Regions from separate parts of the Homo sapiens genome. Here region 2 is linked to region 1. The links come from fine-mapping of genetic effects on gene expression. Tissue or cell type: whole blood. Region 1 holds a variant in brackets; the other region holds the start of a gene. All regions are shown on one strand. Distances are between the middles of the regions.

The links. PIP is the estimated chance that this variant, and not a neighbour inherited with it, causes the effect.
Region 2: PERP starts here. The variant in region 1 is fine-mapped to the expression of PERP in whole blood (TOPMed, PIP 0.95).

What each region holds. Positions count from the first base shown.
Region 1 is chr6:137,989,602-137,997,708 of GRCh38, reverse strand. It overlaps the pseudogene RPSAP42. Among named protein-coding and RNA genes, the nearest start is that of SIMALR, 48 kb to the right of the region's middle. The variant G/A (reference allele first, on the strand shown) is at 4,745.
Region 2 is chr6:138,103,018-138,111,124 of GRCh38, reverse strand. It overlaps PERP (p53 apoptosis effector related to PMP22), which reads left to right and starts at 3,706. Exons shown (of 3, transcript NM_022121.5): 1 at 3,706-3,998. The coding sequence starts at 3,785. RefSeq lists a silencer at 3,528-3,577.

The DNA of each region.
Region 1 (8,107 bases):
GGCTTTTTGTGGACATACATTGTTTATTTCTCTTAGGTTTATGTATACCTAGAGTTGAATTGTTAGGCCATAGGGTAGGCGTATCTGTAACATAGGAAATAGACAGTTTTTCAAAGTGGTTGTATGATTTCATATCCTCATTAGCAATGTATAAGAGTTCCAGTTGCTCCACAACCTCAGTAACATTTGATGTTGTCGATTTTTAAATTTTAATTGTGTTGATGGGTGTGAAATCGAATCTCATTGTGATTTATTTAGCATTTCACCAGTGACTAATGATGTTAGTACTTTTTCAAGTACTTTTTGGATACATATAAATATTGCAAGTGTTTTGGCCATTTAAAAATTGGGTTGTCTTTTTATTCTTGAGTGGAAGAAGATATATATATATATTCTATAATATGTAGAGCTATATAAACCCAGCCCCCACACACAATTTTATCCCAGTCTGAGGCTGACCCATTCATTTTCTGATGAGTAGAAGTTTTAAATTCTGATGAAAACCAATTTATCTTTTTTCTTTTATGGTATCCTAAGAAATCTTTTCCTAACTCAGTATGCAGCACTCTCTGGGCAAGGCACTTATTCCCTTCCCCTTCCCCTACCCCTCCCATCCCCTCTTCTTCTCTCCCCTCCCTTCCCCTGTATTTTCTTCTGGAAGCTTAAAGTTTTAGCTTTTATGTTTAGGTCTATGGTCTTTGTCAAATTAATTTTTGTGTATGCTGTGAGGTAGGTGTCAAGTTTCTTTATTTTCCATATAGACATACAGTTATTCCAGTACAATTTTATGAAAACAACATTTTTCCCCATTGAATTTTTCATGGCCAATGCTGAAAATCAAATGACTGCGTATGTGTGGGTCTGTTTCTGAACTCTCTATTCTTTTGACTGCTCAATGTGTCTCTTCTTATGCCAGTTCTACACTGTCTTTATTACTGTAGCTTTAGAGTAAGTCTCAAAATCAAGTAGTGTTAGTCCTCCAACTTTGATTTTTTTAAAAAAGATTTTGTTTTCCTGGCTAAATTCTAGGTCATTTGTGTTCTCGTGAAAATTTTAGAATCAGTTTTTGTTTCTGTTTTTTTTTTTTTTTTTTAAGCCTACTGGGATCTTGATTAAAATGGCAGTGAATCTATAGATTAATTTGGGGAGAACTGATAGCAATATTGAAGCTTCTAAATCAGGGATGTGGTATGTCTTATTATTTATTTCAGTCTTCTTTAATTTCCTTCAGTAAGGTTTTATAATTTTTAGTGTAGAGGTCTTACACATCTTTTGTTAAAGTTTTTGATAATATTTTTGATGTCACTATATTATGATATTTTCAATGTTGATTTCCAATCATTGCTACTCTATAAACATACAATTCAATTTTGCATATACATCTTATATTCTGTGACTTTGCTAACATAGCTAAGTTTTTTTTATAATATATTGACTGAGATTTTTCTCTATAAACAATCATGTCTTCTTTTGAGTCATTCTTATTTATTTATTTAGAAACTAATGTTTATTTTCCATCAACCTTATTTCTATTTTGCTTAAGAGTCTGTGGAAGAACAGCTTAGGAACACTCAGTGGTTGTTCCTACCCATTCAGCAGCCGGAGCAGTGAGAGCTGCAGACCAGTCTTCTGTGGCAGGCTGAATGCTTCAGTCTTAGTAGGGACCTGCTGAATAGGCACAGAGGGCACCTGCACGTCTTTAGACTAGTCAGCCTGAGTAGCGGTGCACTCATGAGGTGCAGCAGTCCATTCTCCCTGAAATTCATCCTTGGCCGCAGCTTTTTCAGCAGCAGCCTGCCTCTTCCTTTTCAATCTGCTCAGGATCTCTGTAGAAGTAAATATCGGGCATGACCTTCTCCCATGAGTGCTTATGGGAGATGGTGACACTCATGTGTAGACCTTCCTGGGTCAGTCTCCACCACATCAGACCCACTGAGTGAGAGCCCTTGTTGTTGCATGGGATTGCAATGTCCACACAGTGCAGAGGAGAATCTGTGTCACACAGAGCAATGGTTGGTAGGCAGGTTAACATAAGACGACTCTGTCAGCAGCTGGTGGTCAGCCCTGGGGCCAGTAACCACCAGAAGATGCAGTTCTTGGAAGGCTGCCTAGATCTGGCTAGTGAAGTTTCCAGGAGTGAAGTGGCCAGCAATAGGAGTGACTCCAGTGGCAGCAGCAACTTCAGCACAGCCTGCTGGCCAACATTCCTATATGATATGACATTGACATTGGCAGGGTATTCAATGGCAACAATAGCATGAGATGCCAGCAGATGCTTCTCCCAGGTCCTCTTCAGATTTGTGATGTAGAAGCCATCACTCTTCCTTTTTGTAGATGTACTGTTCCATTTGGAAGTCAAGGTTGGTGCAATAAGTCAGTTACTGCTGCAAGATAGTTGAGGACATACTTCTTCACTTGCATGACATCAAGGGCTCTGGACGTTGTGTGAGTTTCCCTTTAAGTTATGAAGGGAATCTAGAACAGGACCGTATGGATGCCTCTCTACTTAGTGCAGAAAGCCTTGATCCTTTATTTTTAATCTTTATGTCTTTGTTTGTTTCATGGTCTTGCCTCATTGCACTAAGACCTCCAGTACAATATTGAATAAAAATGGTGCGCAGTGGACATTGTGCCTTCCCAATCTCAGCATGACTTAAGAATTTTGTCATTGTGATGATACCTTTAGGGTTTTAGATCTTTGTCAAAATGAGGAAGTTTCCTTATATTTTTAATATGCTGTGTTGTGTTTTATGATGAATAGGTGTTGAATTTGGCAAATGCTTCTTCTGCAACTATTAAGATGTTTATATGCTTCCCCCCTTTTTTGTTAAGTAGTGAATTACACTGATCTATTAATTTTCCATTGTTAAATCAACCTGGCATTCCTGGGGGAAAAATCCTACCTGGTCATGATATATTATTATTTCTGTGTATTTATGAATTTGCTAATATTTTGTTAAGGATTTTTGCATTTATTTTTATGAGGGATATTGGTCTGAAGTTTTCTATTTTTGTAATGTATTTATCTGGTTTTATGAGACATGCTGGTCTCAAAAAGCAAGTTGGGAAATGTTCTCTCCTCTGTATTCTGAAAAGACTGTGTATGATTGGTAATATTTCTTCCTTAAATGTTTGATAAAATTCACCTGAGGTTGAAGTTTTCTTATTCTTTTTTTTGAGACGGAGTCTCACTCTGTCGCTCAGGCTGGAGTGCAGTGGCGCAATCTCGGCTCACTGCAAACTCTGCCTCCCAGGTTCATGATATTCACCTGCCTCAGCCTCCCGAGTAGCTGGGACTACAGGCACCCGCCACCACACCCGGCTAATTTTTTGTATTTTTAGTAGAGACGGGGTTTCACCGTGTTAGCCAGGATGGTCTCTATCTCCTGACCTCATGGTCTGCCTGCCTCAGCCTCCCAAAGTGCTGGGATTACAGGCGTGAGCCACCGTGCCCGGCCAAGGTTGAAGTTTTCTTTGTGGGGAAGATTTTAACTATGAATTAATTTTCCTGAACAGATATAGGGTTCTTCAGACTTTCTATTTCTTATTGTATTAGTTTTGTTAATTTGTATTTGTCAAATAATTTAATCTGTTTATATAAAGTTTCAAATTTACTGGCATACATTTCTTTATGTATTTCTTTATTGTCCTTTAGTGTCTATAGGCTCTATGTTCCCTCTTTCATTCCTCATATTGATGGCTTGTATTTTCCTTTTTTTCTTGAATGGTATTGCTAGGAGATTATTCATTTTATTTAACTTTTCAAAGAAACAATTTCTGACTTGGTTGATGTTTCTCTTTTGATTGTCTGTTTTCTATTTCATTGATTTCCACTCTTTATTGCTTCCTTCTTTCTACTTACTTGGGGTTTAATTTGTTCTTATATTTTTGGCTGCTTGAAGAAGGGTAGATAATTGATTTTAGACCTTCATTCTTTTCTAATTAAGCACTTACAGGCCCAAACTTCTAAGTAAAGAGCTGAATCCCACAAATTTTAAAATGTTGTGATTACCATTTAATTCTAATATTTTCTAATACCGCTTGCGATTTTTTTCTTTGAGCCATGGGATATTTGTAATGGTATTGCTTACTTTCCAAATATTTGGGGATTTGAAAAAAAACTGGTTTTTAAAAAAGTTTTATTTTAGAATAGTTGTAGATTTACAAAAAAGCTGCAGAAATATAACTGATAGTTTCTGTATGCCTGTCACTCAGTTTCCCCAGAGATAACATTTTACATTACCATGCTACATTCGTCAATACTAAAAAAAAATCAACATTGGTATATTGCTATTTCTAGATTCAGATTTTATCAGTTTTTCCACTAAGGTCTTTACTCCAGGATCAGTCTAGGATACCACATTGTACTTAGTAGATATCTTTTTTTTTTTTTAAATTCTAACTTAATTCTTTTTGTTTTCAGAAAATATGTTTCGTATGATGTCACATCTGTTAAATTTGTTGAAACTTATTTTATTGACCAGTATATGGTCTATCTTGGTATAATTCTATGTGCATGTGAAAAGAACCTCTATTCTGGACTTTTTATAGGAAATATTCTAGAAATATCAGTTAGTTAAATGGTCTGATGGCATTATTCAGATCTTCCATATCCTTAATGATGTTACTAACTTTTCCTATCAGTTAGAAAGGAGGGCTCAGATCACCAAGTATAATTGTGGGTTTGTTTTTCCCTGTAGTACTGTCAGTTTTTGCTTCATATATTTTGAAGTTTTGTCATTAG[G/A]TATACATAATGACCTTTTTATTATTATAAAATATCCTTCTTTGTCTCTAATATTGCCATATGTCTCGGTGTTTATTTTGTCTGATATTAATATAGCCACTGTAACGTTCTTATAATTAGTACTTTCTTGGCATATTTTTTCCCCATCCTTTTTCTTTTAATTTGCATCTTTAATCTCACCCAGCAAGCTGTTGGGGTTTGCTTTTTAATGTACACTGACAATGTCTGCCTTTTAATTTCAGTGTTAATTATATTTACATTTAATGTGATTATTGATATGGCTGAGTACACGCTATTTGTTTTCTATTTTTTCCATCAGTTCTATTTTTACTTTTTCTTTTTTCTACTTTCTTTTTGGTCAATAAAATAATTTTAAGCATTCTATTTTATTTCTACAATTGACTTTTTTTAATTAGCAAAAAAGCCAATGGTAGAAATAGAGTACTTAAAAGTATGCTTTTTATAAAGTGGGTGGCATTAAGAATTACAATATGCATTCTTAACTTACTAGTCTACTTTTGATGAATATTAAATCATTTTATACATAATGCAAAAAGATTTAAGTTGCATAATTCCATTTAATATTTGACATTAAAAAAGACATTAATGTTTTTAATCTCTCTCTTGTCCCACATATCCTGTAAGCGGTTTTTGTCATACATTTAATTTCTACATATAATTCCCACAAAACATTGCTATTATTTTTTGCTTTAAACTATCTATTGTCTTTTAAGTAAATTAAGAAACATGAAAAAGTCTTATACTTGCTCACGCTCACCATTTTCAGCAAACTTTAGTCCTTCATGCAGGTTTGAGTTTTCATAGCACTGTTTCCTCTCAACCTGAAATGCCTCCTTTACCATTTTTGTTGTCTATTGACAATAAATTCTCTCACATTTTATCTAAAACTTTTAAATTTGGCTTTAATTTCTGATGAACATTTTTACTATATATTAAATTTTAGATAGACAGTCTTTTTCCTTCCTATATTTTAAAGATGTTTCATTTTCATCTTGCTTGTGTTATTTCTGAGGAAAAGCCAACTTATCGGTTTCTCTGCATGTTCTCTGTTTATGTGTGCTAGTCTTTTCTTCTGCAGTATCTAATCTGCTGTAAACCTCTTATGTAAATTTTAAATTTTATTTATAGTTTTTTTAGCTTTAAAAGTCATATTTGTTTCTTTAAAAATGTTTTCTTTATTACTGTGTTTATGTTTTTCCCTAGATCCATATACATGTTTATAAAAGTTGTTTTAAAATCTCTAACTGCCAGGCCAGGCACAATGGCTCAGGCCTGTAATCCCAGCAGTTTGGGAGGCTGAGGTGGGCAGATCACCTGAGGTCAGGAGTTCAAGACCAGCCTGGCCAACATGGTGAAACCCTGTCTCTACCAAAAATACAAAAATTAGCTGGGTGTGGTGGCATGCACCTGTAATCCGAGCTACTCGGGAGGCTGAGGCAGGAGAATCTTTTGAACCCAGGAGGTGGAGGTTGCGGTGAGCTGAGATTGTACCACCGCACTCCAACCTGGGTGACAAAGCAAGACTCTGTCTCAAAATATATACATAAATATGTTCAATTTACCATTTTTTCTTCTGATTTTGGATCACATTTTTCTTCTTCTTTACATGTCTAGTGATTTGTTTTTCATTGTTTGTTGGAGATTGTGAATGCAACATCATTGAAAGTCAGGATATTTTTTCCATTTAAGATTGTTTACTTGTGTCCGGGAAGGCAATAATTTCTTGGTAGACTGCGTTAATCCTGATGAGATTAGATTATTGGCTCTGCTTGGCCAGTTCTAGAATAGCCCTTACTCTAGAGCATGATCCCTAGTTCTACCATGGCCTTTCTGAGACTCATCTGAATGACTGGGGTGATCATGAGGTTTTCTTATTTTGGCTGTTGAAATTCCGATGCCTCCTAACATTGTGCAGTCTCTAAAATCTGGATTCACCTCTCAATCTTCATGAAGCTGTTTGCTAGGCCTTCAGGTGTCTACTGTGCCTAAACACAGCTTAGTATTTGGCAAAGACTTGAGAAAATCCTATGCATATTTCTGCGGCTCCTTCCCCGTCCAGCTCCCTTCTGTCTGTTACCCTGTCCACAAATTCCACCTGCATCAGCAGCACAGACCCCGATCTCAGTCTCCTCTGCCTGGAAAGAATGATATCTGTTTAGGCCACTTCCCTTGGAAGAAGTTTAGTAGTCCTCCCAAGCAGAAATCAGGGGTGAATATGGGCTTGCTGTATGCATTTTCCTTCTCTCAAGGATGACAGCCTTATGCACACTGAAGGTGATTAATAAATATTTGCTGAACCAGACAGAGCTGTTAAACTAGATTTCCATTTCTTTTTTCTATCTGTGATGCATAATTCCTCCAGTTCTTTCCATCCCTGAACCTCCCTTTCCAACAAAATCTATCCTTAAACTCATATTTGTGTTATAGTTATGACTCCATATTTCTGAAACAAAAATTTAGAACTTTAACTAAAAAATATGAGGATATTGGGATAGAATATTTGAAATCTGTGTTACTCATAGAAATCCTTGACCTTAACTAAAATATAAGCTAGACTTGCCAAGGGGAGACTACCTTAAGAGAACAAAGTTAGCTTCAGAATTTCTGGCATTAGCATCAGGTACCTACATAAAGCTGTACTGCAATAATTTCAGTATCTTTTTTCTTTTTGAGGCAGAGTCTCACTCTGTCACCCAGGCTGGAGTGTGTGGTGGCATGATCTCAGTTCACTGCAACCTCTGCCTCCCAGGCCCAAGAAATTCTCGTAACTCAGCCTCTTCAGTTGCTGGGACTAAGGTGTGTGCCACCACGCTCAGATAATTTTTGTATTTTTTAGTACACACAAGGTTTAATCATGTTAGCCAGGTTGGTCTCGAACTCCTGGCCTCGAGTGATCCACCCACCTCAGCCTCCCAAAGTGCTGGGATTATAGACATGAGCTACCGCACCTGGCCAATTTCAGGATCTTTTAAAACTCTTAGCTGCCAACTCCATTTTCAGAAATATGTAAGATTCTGTGTACAGTCATTCTCCAAGAATGTCTATTTTACTCCAGCTTTTTCACTTATTTCCTACCCAGTTTTGGGCACGAAATGCTTAGGAATGAATTTGTGACTAAGAGATCAATTTGAAATGGGAATTTAGTTGTGGACTTGTGAGGGCTTGAACATTCATTCATTTATTCATGCATGCAAAAAAACCTTCTGAGTGGAACAAAAGGCAGCAGAAACTTCTGCACACTTAAACGTCCCTGTCTGACAGCTTTGAAGAGAGTAGTGGTTCTCCCAGCATGGAGTTTGAGGTCTGAGAACGGACAGACTGTCTCCTCAAGTGGGTCCCTGA
Region 2 (8,107 bases), 110 kb before region 1:
CATGAGATGTTCAGCCAGCCAAAGAGAAGAAATGCCAGAGATGAGTGATGGAGGAATGAAAGAAAGGTGATCTCCGCTTAATGTTAGAAGACTTATTATCTGTCAATGATTTCAAGGGGAAAAAATCATAGGATATTATGCTGAGATAGAATAAGGATGACAGTTTTAAAAATAAGACCCTCTAAAAGGAAGAGTGCTCAGAGACCCTCTGAGTTATTTTGAGACTAGACAGATTCTCATGTTCATTTGACAAGTGTTTCTTGGAATTTTATCATGTTCCAGGCACTGGGTACTGTGCACACAGTGGTGAGAGGTAACATGTGACACTTTTGTCAACATCTAATTTACATTGCAGTGGGAGTGGATACAAATTATTCAGAATAAATATATAATTAAAATTGTGAGAAAAGTTTTGAAGGAAAGACATACAGGGCTTTGAGGATGTGTAACGGGAACTTAATCTAGTTGGGGGCTTTCTGTGGAAGTGAAGTTTTGCTGAGGTCAAGGGGTCAGTAGGTGTTCATCAGGTCAGAGGAGCAGGACTGGGTGGGTGAGGTCGAAGAATCCTGGGTTGACGTTTACTGTGTATTCACAGTCACTGTTAATTTACATAAGATACTCTTGGTTTTCTGGATCATGGCTATTGGTTCTAACTCAGGCTATGCTATTATTAAGGACTCTCAATGGTCCACACCTATCACGTGATCTCATCAATGTTCAATGTGAAAAATAAGGCCCTGCATCTTTGCCAAATGGTTGACAGTGGGAGCATTTGCCACATCCAGAGGAAACTCAATCACTCCATATCTACTGGAGGGTACTTCATCCATGGACTCAACTGGACAGCCACAAGAGAACCATGTCAAAGGCCCAATGGTCCTACAGAGATGCCCAGAACGGTGGCAGGGAGATCATGTCACTGCAGCTTGGGAGATAACTAGGAGTAGTTTGGGTGTTTACAAGGACCAAAGAAGGGAAGAAAGGAGACATTTGGATACATCCATAAACTCTTACGAGTGCTTACTGTGATGAATAGCACTATCTCTGCTGTCAGGCTGCCTAGGTTGAAGCCTGGCTTTGCCACTCCGTGACTGCATGGTCTTGGGCAAGTTACTTAACTTCGTTGTGCCTCAGTCCCTTGTGTAAATGAAGGAGATGCTGGTACATGCCTCATAAGGTAGATGTGAAACACCCACTGGGACATAGTAAACTCCAGCAGATGTTTGTTAGCTGCTATTATTATTATTACTATTACTTTCTACCAATTTTTATTTTTAAAATTATTTATTTATATATTTTTGTTGGTAACAGTCATTGGTTTTATAACCATAACCCCAAATTAGAAAAATAAAACCTTTTTGTTTATGGTGATAGTTTCATGGGTATGTACTTATCTTCAAATTCGTCAAGTTGTATATATTAAATATCACTTTTTTGTATGTCAGTCAAGCCTCAATTAAAAAAAAACTTTCTGTAGGTGCAATTTACATTTTTGCCAAGTGCTCAGTGCTCAGGCGCAATCCCTACATTGTCCAGCAGGGGGAACTATCCAACTGCCTACTGTTCTCTATGAGCCATCATTTTATGAATATGGCTAGGATGAATGATTGCATTGTCTCAAATAACTTAGTCACTTACAGTTGGTATTCACCTATAGAATTTGCCCTTTAGAAACATGGACATTCCCCTCTTTCAATGTTCAAAAGTGGAAAACCTATATGAAAAATCATCATCATCATCATCAACCCTTACTATATGCAGGAACTATCTTGAGCACTTTAGATGAATTTGCTCTTTTAACAATCATTAAAACACTGAGGTTAGCACTGTCTGTCTTACAGATGAGGAAATGGAGGCACAAAAAACTGAACTAACCTGCCCAGTGTCACACAGCGAATATGAGAAAGCGTGTAAACCTGAACCATCCGGTTCCAGAGTCTGTACCACATGTTGGGTATATTATTGTTGGAAACCCACCAGGGTCAATGTGGTCTCTTCCAGAAATTGTGAAGAGCTAATCTCTTTGTGTTCACCTCGGCATTAATGAGCTCTTTTCCTCAAGCCCATCGGAAATGGTTTCATTGAATAACGAAAATAAATTATATATATCAAGTCCAAAATTATCCAGAGATATTAAGATGCCTGCAAAACTCTCATTTTGTCTGAAGCCACTTTGCTTCTGGTCAGTATTTGACTTATAAGAATTTTTTTTTCTCACAAATATATTATACATAGCTAATTAAACAAATATCTTCATTACTTTTGAAAACCCTGAGAACATAAATATCACCATTTTCTTCACACAGCTTCCACGATACAAAATTAACTTTTGGCAGAACACCCTCTTGTGTTCTTTGAAAGTGAAAATATTTTCCTGTAATAAAAATATATGACGTGGTTTATGTAAAACTTGAATTATGTAAAATGAAGGCTAGGGAAATTATTTCATGTATTTTCAGATACTTTCTCCATGCTTTTATTCGTCCTCAAGAATTGCCAGAAAATGGCATAAGTCAAAAGAGTATTCTGTTTCTATTGAGAATATCAAATTGGAATACAATTTAAAATATTTTTAAGTAGTTCCCACTTTTATATTAAATTAACAGAAAAAATAGGGGATTCAGAAGAAATCTTTGGAGGTACAGGGTTAAGACATGACCCCCATACGATGTTTCAGTGATTTTCCCAAGGCCACCGAGGTGCCTGACACTGAGAACTCCTTTGTCCTCAGCGGCACACCTGGCTGCCACCCCACCCTTCCTGTCACATCTTAGGAGTCAGAACTGCGACGGGAGCTAGCCCAGGACACCGAAGGGGGGATCCTAAATGCAGGTTGCATGCTGACGTATGATTTTTATTTGGAAAAACCTCAAAATAGTAAATGAAGAGTAGAGAGAGTGCAGTTTAAATAGGTAGAGATTCGTGATAGGAAGTGGACTGCAGCAGAGGCGACATGAAATTATCTGGGGAAGCCAGATGAAGCCTTTCCGAAAGGAAGCGAGCATTTGTTAAATTACATGTTCATTCATCAAATTCACTGAGCTCCCCTTGAGATCCAAACACGGTGCCGGACACTAAGGATACACAGATAAATTCAGCATCGCCTCCGCTTTCCAAAATCTGGCAACCCAGCAGGAAAGAACAGCATGCAAAGAGATAAGAGTACCCGGGGAGCCACGGTCCAAGGTGCAAAGGCGGAGCCTAGGAGGAAGGGATCACCTGTGTCAGCAGGGGTCAGGGACGGGCTTCTGGGTTTGGGTGCACGCGTCCAAAGGAGTGCAGCCTTTATCCACAGGTGCAATTAGAACACCCATCTCACACTGCTGAAAACTCAGATATGGCACTGCTGACCACCGCCCCACGATGCGACATCAGGGGTCAGATATTAGGCTGGCGCTGTGCAGATAAACAAGTGTATATGTTGGTGCGCCAGGAAGACAAAACACGCGCCTGGAGAGGCCAGGAGAGCGGGACTGGAGGGTTGTGGGACGCGCGGGACCCTCGGGCCGCCTTCCGCCGCCGCCCGGTGTCACCAGAACCCAGCCTGTTTACCAGCGGCCCCGCCCGCCCCGGCCCGGCAGGGCAGGTCGGGGCGGGCGCGCTCTGAGTCACCGGAATCTAGGTGGGGCCGCCCGGAGCGGCGTCCTCGGGAGCCGCCTCCCCGCGGCCTCTTCGCTTTTGTGGCGGCGCCCGCGCTCGCAGGCCACTCTCTGCTGTCGCCCGTCCCGCGCGCTCCTCCGACCCGCTCCGCTCCGCTCCGCTCGGCCCCGCGCCGCCCGTCAACATGATCCGCTGCGGCCTGGCCTGCGAGCGCTGCCGCTGGATCCTGCCCCTGCTCCTACTCAGCGCCATCGCCTTCGACATCATCGCGCTGGCCGGCCGCGGCTGGTTGCAGTCTAGCGACCACGGCCAGACGTCCTCGCTGTGGTGGAAATGCTCCCAAGAGGGCGGCGGCAGCGGGTCCTACGAGGAGGGCTGTCAGAGCCTCATGGAGTACGGTGAGTGCCCGCCGCCGCCGCCGTCGCCGCCTCCAGGAAGCCCTCGGGGCCGCGGCCTGCAAAAGCCGCCGCGCGTGATGGGCCCTCACAGGGTCGGGGGAGCCAGTGCTTTTCAGAATGCCTGTTTAGGACGAGCTCGGGCTCATGCATCCGACCTGAACCAAATGCAGCAGCAGTAGCTTTGGGTGGCCAACACCAAGCTCAGAAACAGAAAAAAAAAAAAGGCCGTAGTTCAAACTGTATAGTTTTTTTCCTGGGTTTTGTCGGTTACGTACGAAAGATTATTTCAAGCATTGCAAGTTTAGATGAGTAAATATAATGAACAAAGTTTCTTGGAGACCTGAAATTTCTTCCCATTTCTCTTCCTTCTCGTTTCTTCTTATGATTAAAATATAAATATTGAAATAACGTGCCTTCCCTAATATCAGTGGATTCGTTCAACTTGATATAGCTGAAAAAACTTTCTCATTTAAAAAAGCCCTTTCAGGCAGTTTTAGCAGTTAACGTTTTCAATAGATATTTCAGTCTACTTTACCGGTCAGGCTAGTTCTTGTTAGCTCTTGTTCTAGGGCGTGTCCTTTGGTTTAAGCATGGCATTGTTGTTTAGAAAACTTAATTATTTTAATCCGATTTGAAATCTAAAAAGCAAACACATTCCCTACACTCGCGACGTGAAGCAGAGTTGACAAATTTAATGTACCTAGCAGGTGAAGTACTGTATGCCATTTTCCCAGCATGGAGGAAGCTCCCTGCTTGCCTTGCTGAAAGTCAGGACTGGAGCATAGTTCTTGTCTGAGAAGGCATTTTCTTTCACAGTGGGAAGCCCCCTCTCCTTTCCTGGGGGTGGATGGGAATCACAGCTGGGGTCTACTGTGATTAGCAATGTGTGTGGGGGTGGAGATGGGGTCTGTGAGAGCCTAATAAAACCTTAAAGCCAAATGGGCTTTACCTACCGGGTTTAATAGTTTTAAACACAGACAGCAAGCTACCCTGCCTGTTTTCATTTCTTACTATTACCATTGACTTGATTTTTTTCTTTGAAGTGGCCCAGGGCTTCCAACCCAATCCTGTTTATTTGTGTTTCCGGGGGACTATATCAGCAACTTGGTGCCCTTTCTTTTGTGTAATCCTTTGGACGTCACTTCCCCACAAAAGGAAGCATGGTCCCCATTAGCCAGGTAATAAAATGTAAACACTGCAGAAAATTCCAGCTTTCTTTGCAGTTTGTGTGTTTTCTTCTCTGAAAACCCATACACTGTGCCAGCTCAGGTTTGTATCATCTCCAGTGTTTTAGGTTTTTAAAGCGAATTAATTGTTTTTTGAAATAATGTACCTCTATCTTCTAGTTAAAATGCATCTGAACTCAGTCTCTTCTAGGGGACCTAACAGATCTGCGTGTGTGTTTTTAAACATACTTTGATAATTATACCCTACTCCAAAGACTAATGCAGACCCAAAGTATATGCAGTAATCCTCCACATATAAAGTAAGACTAGCGTGCCTTTGACTGGTGGCGGGGATATTGGCAGAACTATGATCAGTGCTACTGACGGGACATGATTTGACCTGCAGGGCTCTGGCTGTGACCACAGCCCTCTTGTGAAACATGCACAATGCCATTTTTATTTTTCTTGACTTGCAGGATGAGCTCACCTTTTTAGGGTGTGGTGTTCCACCTTAGACTGATACAGTGCTTTGTATATGGAAGGCAATAAGCAGGTTTTTTTTCTTAGTTTGGTTGAATTTTTAATTAGAAGTCTAAATGTTAATTTTTTTCATTGTAAAGAAAACACTAACCAGTGTATAGTTTATAATTCAGTTTGACATAGAAATTGGTCCTTGGAAAAGCTCGATTTTCTAAGTGGATCTCGAAAAATCTGTTTATGATGCAGCATGACTGATTTTCGTAAATGGTAATAGCTTTAACAACTCAGTTTAGTTATTCCTGCTACCTTTGCAAAGTTAATTAAGTGCCAGTAATGCATTACACACGGCTCTTGCTCAAGATCTGGAATCAAATCATGAATCTGGGATCCGCTGTCATGAAGTGGCTGTGGGAAGAAGACAGCAGATATGGAGCTACCTCTGGCCGTTGTAGCCAAAGATGAGTTTAAGTGCTTATTATACGTCTGTCTCATCGCCTGCATGCACATTGTCTAGTTTTGCCTCACAATTGTAGAAGCTGTGTATAACGACACTGTAAGGCGATTATCTAGGCATCTATGAACTCTGGATTTTCAGATAGCCTTAGTAAGGCCTTACTGAAAACCATATATTTACATGAGCTTGTACTTTATCTAAAATGAAGTAAGCAGTTTACACACACTCCCACGTATGCACAAACACACAGTATCTTGTGCAACAAGGAATAAGGTTGATGGCTCTGATTAAAATGAGATCTCCGTATAGAGAATTGAGTGTGTACATCCACTTTGAAAAACTTCTTGATATGTACTAGGCAATAAATATTTTGATTTACCGTTGTAACTATTAAGAAAATCTTGTTATTACAAAGTGTTTCAACACCTCTCTTATTAGTTGATAATCATAACAATATGTTCATTTTGGTAGTAAAGACACAGGTTATTCCTGGCAAGTATTGACAATAATCCGAATGAATATGGATGTTTTTATAAAGATAAATAATTCCTTAGAACTATATAAAAAGCAGAATATTATATTTTTCACTGTTACTGACAGTTTAAGAATTTCAGATGACCAAATCACCTCATTTTTCCTTGTGAAGGAGCCAAATTATTCGCTGAATATTTTCTTTGACCAGCTAAATTAACACCCAGCTAAAAACATTCTTATTTGAATTTTTTAAAAATCATGGTTTATATTTGTCAAAACAGGAAAAGAAAATCTATAGATTAATGATTGAAATCATTCAAATTTCACCTATAAATAAAATGTGAAATTTAAATGCATGTTCACTCATACTAGTTTTGCACCGCTGGCACCATCTTTTCTAGTTTTTAAGAAAGAATACATCAGGAGGATATTTTCAGCCGCAGCTGTGTAGATTTCAAATCACAGGCAAGCTCCAGCTTGTTCAAGGGGAGAATAATGGTGATAAGTTTGTGCACCAGAGTGAAACAGGGAGTCAGTGAGGATTGACGAGCATTTGCCTTGAATCCAAACTGGGAAGTACAAAGCCTCCGGTTTTTTGTTGTTTTTTAACCAAAGACACCCTTTGCATACTGTAAATGCATCAATATTTTGTTTGTTTTTAACATGAAATCGCTGTTGGCCAAGTCAAAGAATCAGTATTACATGAAATAGTTTTAGGTCAGTTAGCCCTGTGGCTCTCCAATGTACAAGAAATAAGAAAAGTAAGTACAAGTTAATAGTTCACATTAGTCTAAATTCCTCTTAAAGCAGGGATCCCCAACCCTGAGGCCACAGACTGTTACTCCCACTGATTCTACATTATGGTGAGTTGTGTAATTATTTCATTATATATTATACAGTGTAATAATACTAGAAATAAAGTGTGTAATAAAGGTAATGCACTTGAATCATCCCAAAACCAAGGAAAATTTTCTTCCTTGAAACTGGTCCCTGGTGCCAAAAATGTTGGGGACCACTGATTGAAAGGACTTCATTTTGAGATTATGCCCTTGTGGTTTTTTCAGTGGGGAGTGGGGTAGGGAAAGGTATTAAACTGTTCCTGGCCGGGTGTGGTGGCTCACGCCTATAATCCTAGCACTTAGGGAGGCCGAGGCGGGCAGATCACTTGAGGTCAGGAGTTTGAAACCAGCCTGGCCAACATGGTAAAACCCCGTCTCTACTAAAAATACAAAAAAATTAGCCCGGCATGGTGACAGGCACCTGTAATCTCAGCTACTCAGGAGGCTGAGGTAGGAGAATTGCTTGAACCCGGGAGGCGGAGGTTGCAGTGAGCCAAGATTGGGCCACTACACTCCAGCCTGGGTGACAGAGCGAGACTCAGTCTCCAAAAAAATACAAAACTGTACCTAATTTATGAAATTAGGCATTAGCAGACAGATTACTCTTTTTTTTTTGAGACGGAGTCTCGGTCTGTCGCGCAGGCTGGAGTGCAGTGGCACAATCTCTGCTCACTGCAAGCTCCGCCTCCCGGGTTC